Linked DNA regions of Homo sapiens. The protein of the gene in region 1 interacts with the protein of each later gene in a biochemical or structural test. Each region holds a gene or a part of one and is shown in the gene's direction. Other genes may lie near its edges. The genes, in order: CUEDC1 and MFHAS1.

Region 1 (3,816 bases):
CCTCGGCCCTGACTCCATCTCTTTCGGTTTCAGGTGGGACCATCCGTGAAACCGGTGCCAGGATGCACCGGGGGTGTGGATGACCGGCCGCCCAGCCCCAGCACGGCCCGGTCCCGCATGCCACCGCCCCGCGAGGACCGCTCTCCAAGGGCTGCCTGGGGCCCCGCGCCCGTACTCTCCTAACCCGGAGCTCTTGGCAGCCCATTGCTGCCTGGCTACCCGGGGAGGAGGAGGCGCAGGAGTGAGCTGCCCGAGACCGCAGGGCAAGTAAGCGGCTGACGGCGGAAAGACCCTGGGGAAGGGGCTTTGCGGCCGGCTAGAAACATTTTCCCCAAGCGGCTCCGCAAAATGACCAGCCTGTTCCGCCGGAGCAGCAGCGGCAGCGGCGGGGGTGGCACCGCCGGGGCACGCGGGGGCGGGGGAGGCACGGCCGCCCCCCAGGAGCTCAACAACAGCCGGCCTGCCCGCCAGGTGCGCCGCCTGGAGTTCAACCAGGCCATGGACGACTTCAAGACCATGTTCCCCAACATGGATTACGACATCATCGAATGCGTGCTGCGCGCCAACAGCGGCGCTGTGGACGCCACCATCGACCAGCTGCTGCAGATGAACCTGGAGGGCGGTGGCAGCAGCGGCGGCGTCTATGAGGACAGCTCCGACTCGGAGGACAGCATCCCCCCGGAGGTAGGGGCGCAGCCCGGGTAATTCCAACCACCACTGGAGGACAGCATCCCCCCGGAGGTAGGGGCACGGCCCGGGTAATTCCAACCACCACTGGAACCTCTAAGAGGACCTGGGTTACTCCGCTATCTGGGTTCTAATTAGCAAGCAGCCTTACTTCCCCTAGGGAAAAGTACCATCCGTCAGTCACCTTATTTTATGGGCAGAAATCATGCAGTCATTCAACAAACACTGAGCGCCCACTCAGTGGTGTGCGAGACGTGGCACTAGACCCTGAGTCAGGAGGCATCAGAATCAAGGTGCTTGTTAAAAATGCAGGTGCCTGGGCCCCACCCCAACATACTGAACTCCACATCAGGCGTAGAGTCCGCTAGTGGCCAAGTCAGACCAAATTTCTGCCCTCCTGGAGCTCACAGTCCAGTGTGGACTAGAAGCGCGAGTCGGGTACTGACGGCCAGAGTGGTAAGTGCTCGATGGAGACGTGGAAGCAGCAGAAAGGAGTGACTTCCCAGAGGAAGCGATGGCTAAGCCGAAACCCTAAGCTGAGACCCAAAGGAAGAGTGAAGCCGGGGGAAGGGTGTGCAGGCAAAGGGAACAGCTTGTGCAGAGTCTGGGAGGTGAAATAGTGCCTCACTGGCTAGGGAACTGGCAGCAGGACCATCTGTCAGGGTCCTAGAGTGAGAGGAGATCAATGAGGTTGACAAAGCCCTGACGCTGAGAAAAAGAGTGCGGCTGGGGCCGGGCGAGGTGGCTCATGCCTGTAATCCCAGCACTTTGGGAGGCCGAGGCAGGTGGATCATGAGTTCAGGAGTTCGAGACCAGCCTGGCCAATATGGTGAAACCCCATCTCTACTAAAAATACAAAAATTAGCCAGGCGTGGTGGTGCGCACCTGTAGTCCCAGCTACTCGGGAGGCTGAGGCAGGAGAATCGCCTGAACCCGGGAGGCAGAGGTTGCAGTGAGCCGAGATCATGCCACTGCACTCCAGCCTGGGTGACAGAACAAGGCTCCGTCTCAAAAAAAAAAAAAAAAAAAAAAAGAAAAGAAAAAGAGTGCGGCTGTATCCTGGGAGCATAGCCACGGAAAGGGAGTGAGGAATCAGACTTGCCAGTTAAATCCCTCTGACTGTGGCCTGATGGAAACAGTAGTGAGCCATAGCCAAGCAGTCTCTCCAGGGAAGTGGCTGGAGAGAGGGGACCTGCGTACTGCATCAGTACCCACCTGCTGGAGGTTGTGAGTCCTTTCCAGTCCCACCCGAGTTCAGTGGACATCTGGCCACCCAGTATCAGCAGAGCCTGAGGTGCTTGGTGCAGAAGGATGAGGCACACAGAGCCTGTTAATCAGAGGGGTGTTGTCCACAGGGCCATCTGGGACATGCAGCCATGGACAAGACCAGGACCCAGCAGGATTTAACTCCACTCTTTATTGAGTCCCGACCCGTGCCAGGCATCATCCTAAGTGCTTTAGATGTATCATATCTTCTTTTTTTGTTTGTTTTTTTGTTTTTTTGAGACAGAGTCTTGCTCTGTCGCCCAGGCTGGAGTGCAATGGCGCGATCTTGGTTCACTGCAACCTCCACCTCCCAGGTTCAAGCGATTCTCCTGCCTCAGCCTCTCGAGTAGCTGGGACTACATGCATGTGCCATCATGACCGGCTAATTTTGTAGTTTTAGTAGAGATGGGGTTTCACCATGTTGGCCAGGCTGGTCTCGAACTCCTGACCTCAGGTGATCTGCCCGCCTCGGCCTCCCAAAGTATTGGGATTACAGGCATGAGCCACTGCACCTGGCCCGATGTGTCATCTCTTCTAATCCTCACAAACTTTGTGCTGTGGCATTATTATTACCCTTGTTCATCAGCCATCCTGCAGGGCAAAGTCTCCTTGCTTTTCCTCCTTAGTGGGTGCTGCTGAGACTTCCCCTAGAGGTGGAAAAGCTCTGTTGGCCAAGACATCTGGCTCATCCCTGTGTCATCTGCAGCACCCAGGACAATCCACGCACATAGCAAGCACTCAGGGAGTGTTTGTTGAATGAGTACGTGTTGCTGCTGTCTTTGTACAGTTTTCTATTGTCTCTCTCCTTGGGAGACCACTCCTTTGATCTGCTTGGAGTAGGTGGTGGAAGGAATATTGGAAAATATGGATCCTCTTTGTAGAAAGAAGGAGAGAGAGAGAGTGAGAGTATGCGTATGTATGTGTGTGTCTGCAGATACAGTTGACCATTGAACAATGCAGGGGTTAGGGGCAGTGAATCCTCCCCTTGCAGTCAAAAATCCACTTTTTAATATAACTTTTGATTTTCCCAGAAATTGACTGCTAATAGCCTATCGTTGACCTCAAGCCTTAACTCAAGCCTTAACATAAACAGTCGACTAACATATATTTTGTGTGTTGTATGTATCATATACTGTATTCCTACAATAAAGTAAGCTAGAGACAAGAAAATGTTAAGAAAATCATAAGCAAGACAAAATATATTTTCTACTCATTAAGTGGAAGTAGATCATCGTAAAGGGCTTCATCCTCATCTTCTCACATTGAGTAGGCTGAGGAGGAGGGACAGGAGGGGTTGGTTTTGCTGTCTCAGGGGTGGTGGAGGTGGAAGAAAATCTACCTATAAGTGGACCCACGCAGTTCAAACTCTTGTTATTTGAGAGTCAACTGTATATGCTTTAAGTGTGAACTGGAAGGAAAGCTCTCTGCAAGCTCTGACCCTTTCTGCAGTCTGATTTGCCCTGACAGTCTGGCAGGTAGGGTAGTATTTTCTCCTTTGTCCATGGCCCCCACAGTCCTATAGACCTCTGCAAGGCTTCACCACCCCCTAGGTAGGCCCTTGCTGTGTGTGCACTTCTGTTTTTCTAAGAATCTTGCTCTCCAAATTGAGCCCCCTCCCGGTACCCCTCCCCTCCCTTGGCAGTCTCCCCAACCCCCCACCTTTGGAACTCTGCCTGGGCCCATAGGCAGGCAGCTCCTGAGCCAGCGGAAAGTGCTTCGGAAAATTTATGAGCCACAGCTGGAATGACAATAACTGCTGACTGGAAAAAAAAACCCTTTCTGGGGGCTGATGGATGGTGGGCTGGCCCGAGGGGTATCCTTGCCATGGAGAAGTATCTCCTGTCAGATAAATGGCCTAGACCC
Region 2 (3,816 bases), on another chromosome or scaffold:
AGTAACTTTCAGATAGAACATTGGGTTACTACTATTCTAGATAACACTCATCCTGTTGGTTTGGGTTTTATGTATGTGTGTTTTTCGTTTTGTTTTGTTTGTATTAAGAACCAAAGAGGCCGCTTTTAAGCTGAGATGAAATGCCTGTTACTTCAAATCCTGAAAAGCAGCAGCCACAGATCTTCTTGGGTCAGATCTCATGATCTGGGTGATGTCAGCACCATGATTTCTCCAGCATAGTATTCATATCCATGCAGCAAACTCGACTCTTTCTTCCTAGCTGGCCACATGGAATTTTTTAATGAAAAAATTATGTATGAATCTAAGCCTGTTTTTAGGGAGCTTGGAAAGTGCGCCTTTGGGAATTGTGACCTGTCATCTCCTCTTGGGAAACTTGCTGTCCGGCTGCATTCCAGGCAGTGTGACAGGCATCCATCTCACCCCTCACATGGCAGCTTCCCTGCCTTTGGTGTGCTCCCTGCAAAGCGAGGGTTCCCAGTGGCATTCTTACTCATTAGCTGCTGCAGTAGAAGTAGAGGGCACTCGGCTCAGTGCCCCGTTTCTCCAAACTGGGAAACTCATTACATAGAACATCCCTAATCTATCCTTGCTGGAAAATATCACCGAACACCCAAGGGAAACTGTTATCTAATGCTCTTGTATTCAGAGTACTATTTAACTATCATGTGCATAGTTTAATTTATCACTGACCCTAAGACATTGTGAATCTTGAAGTGCTTCTTAAATATTAAAATAGGATTACAGAATAACTGTTAAAAGTAATTGCACAATTACTTTTGCACCAACCGAATATTAACCTGAATATCCCCTGTCCTGAACATATCAAACAACGGAAATTTTATTGTTTCTCTTTTAATTTCTTTGAAATTGTACATATTGGTCCCTTTCTTTCAGATACACCTGGGTGAGGATGGATAAGGGGATATTATATGTTTTCTTTTTCTTCTGTCTCTTTTTTTTAATACCCCGCAAGTTCTTAAAGCTCAAGGGGATATTACAGAACCAGCAAGGTATGAAACAGAGGAAACAAAAATTCAATATACTTTGCATTGGCGTAAACTTTCCAGAGCCAAGAGAGACATGAACCTATTGTTTTGCCATAGCCAAGTGCCGTCGAATAGGTGCGATAGAGGTAGGAGTTAAAATATCCATTTGCGCTAGAAACCTTCCTGGCACCAAGCCAGCTTTATCAGTGTTTTCCCATGGGCTTCTTGTACTGCCGCAGAAAGACCACGTTTATACCAACCTGAAAAAAATGTTATCAGCCTCTCTCTCGACAGCGTATTGAACCTGAACGAACAAGCAGCCTAAAGTCATGGGTAAGCGGCGGTACATGGCGCCAGACATCCAAATGCCGAGGAAGCCTCTTTAGGCATTGAACCACTTTTGACCTAGCTATCAGAATCATTTTATTTTGAAAGAGGTTAAAAAAAAAGTCTCATGAAATGGATGACAGCTTTGCAATATAATTCTCAACTCTAAATGAAGGAATGTTCTCTAAGTAGGGAAGTTTCATATTCCTGGCAAGACGTTTCTTGGAAAATTACCATATTTTAGTGCAGCTGCAAGGGGTAAATGATCTCTTGTGTGACTTTATAGAAAAGCACACGTAGATGTGAAGCCTGTGCTCGAGCTGCCCAGTGTTCCCCCACCTTCACCGCCTTAAGCACCCACAGTTTACATCCATGAACACATGGACAAAAACAAACTCATGTGGAGGCCGGGCCAGGCTCCGGGGAAGGTCCCATTCATGGGTGGTTGACAGTGGATTGGAAGCGGGAGATTTGGGGGGATCGGTTAGGATAGCTGGCAAAGAATCTGTGCTTAAGTCAACACAGCTTGGGCCTGAGCCTGAGACTTGGGGTCTCAGCAGGCACTAGACATTGGAAGTCCGGGGCTATTGCACTGGCTTTCAACTCCAGCCGAGGTAACTTAAGCAGGTCACCATAGAGGTCAGGCTTTTTTTTTTCTTTTTTGACAAAGGGTCTCACTCTGTCACCCAGGCTGGAGTGCAGTGGTGCGATCTCAGCTCATTGCAAACTCCACCTCCAGGGTTCAAGTGATTCTTCTGCCTCAGCCTCCTAAGTAGCTAGGACTACAGGCGCACACAACCACACCTAGCTAATTTTTTGTATTTTTTGGTAGAGACGGGGTTTCATCATGTTGGCTGGGCTGGTCTCGAACTCCTGACCTCAAGTGATCCATCTGCCTCAGCCTCCGAAAATGCTGGGATTACAGGCATGAGCCACCGTGCCCAGCCAAGGTCAGGCTTTCTTAATCAGACCTGTTAAGTTAGAATTTCTCAGGGAAGGGACCAGGCATGAGTCACTAAAAAACAGAAGAAGCCACCCAGATGAGTCTAACGTGTGTACACGACTTTCTGATGGTTCAGTTCCAGTCCATGCCTCTAAGGGTGGGTTCCCTGGCCAGTGGGGCCTTAGGACTGCTCTGTGGTCAATACCTGCTCTGCAGCACAAAGGCAAAACTGTCCATGCTGTCTGCTCTCAGCCTCAGCACAGTCCCTCCCACTCTCAGGTAAGGTGAACATATCACTCACTGTTCAAATCAGGAGAGGATTGAGAGTGATGGGACGGCTGTCAGTCATGTTGGGATGATGGGTGCCCTAGAGAAAGCTCCCAGGTAGACCAGAATAATTACCCTAGGTGATTGCTGGCTTTTGTGGGGCTTAGGTGGCTGATCTGGATCTCATGATGGTTTTTAAAAAGACATTCCAAGCTCTTCTTTGGCTGGTTTAGCCCTCTCCTTTATTGGTCAAATCAGAGACTTGTCATTTAACTGCCTGTCTTTGACTAATGGTGCTGCAATGCTTTCTTTATAAAGAAGAAACTGTAGATGACTGTTACCTGATTGGCCTTTTTTAAATGAATTCCAAGCTTTTCTATTTCTTATTTTAAACAATTTGTAGACATTTTATTCCCCCATGGGGAGAGACAGAGAATAAGAAGTAGGTAGTGATATTTTTTTTTTTGTTTTAACAACATGATTTACTCTTATAACTTGTCTCAGTGGATTGGTGGTTGAGGTCTCCACCAGCGTTTCATTGGGAAGAGGTTTCAGGAACAGGATGAAATGCCTCCCCTTCTGCACCTCACCCTCCAGGGAGAAACAGGAGCTGAGTGGCTTCTTCTCCCCCTTGCTGATTATCAGATAGAAATGTGAGTCATTTCCATGCTTTGAATATCTTGAGATGATTTTCAAGGATATCTGCATTTAAGATGAGGTGAACATTCACCTAGTAGCAAATTTGCCTGGGTCGCTCTGAAAAATTCTGGCCTCCTCAAGGATACAGATTGTGACAGATACATTTTTAAAAGCTTTATTGATGTATAATTTCCATACCAGAAAATTCACCTGTGCAATGATTACTAACGTATTTGCAGAGTTGTATTTATACAACCATCACCACAATCTAATTTTAGAACGTTCCTTCACCCCAAAAAGAAATCTCCTGCCTATTTGCAGTTAACTTGTGTCTTATCCAACACCTAGTTCATGCAGTCAGTAAGTTTTTTTTGGTTTGTTTTTTTGGTTATTTTTTTGAGATGAAGTCTCACTCTGTAGCCCAGGCTGGAGTGCAGTGGCGTGATCTTGGCTCACCACAACCTCCGCCTCCTGGGTTCAAGCAATTCTTCTGCCTCAGCCTCCAGAGTAGCTGGGATTATAGGCACACGCCACTGCACCTAGCTAATTTTTTATTTTTTGTATTAGTAGAGAAGGAGTTTCACCATGTTGACCAGGCTGGTCTTGAACTCCCGACCTCAGATAATCTGCCCG

The links.
Region 2: the proteins of CUEDC1 (region 1) and MFHAS1 form a complex in vitro, tested with the Homo sapiens proteins (one large-scale study listed by BioGRID and IntAct).

What each region holds. Positions count from the first base shown.
Region 1 is NC_000017.11:57,882,097-57,885,912, reverse strand, and holds part of CUEDC1 (CUE domain-containing protein 1), read left to right. Parts: intron 1-33; 5' UTR 34-348; coding exon 349-684; exon of another isoform or gene 685-741; intron 742-3,816.
Region 2 is NC_000008.11:8,792,371-8,796,186, reverse strand, and holds part of MFHAS1 (malignant fibrous histiocytoma-amplified sequence 1), read left to right. Parts: intron 1-3,816. UniProt on the Homo sapiens protein: Probable GTP-binding protein. Functions in innate immunity and more specifically the inflammatory response as a regulator of the Toll-like receptor TLR2 and TLR4 signaling pathways.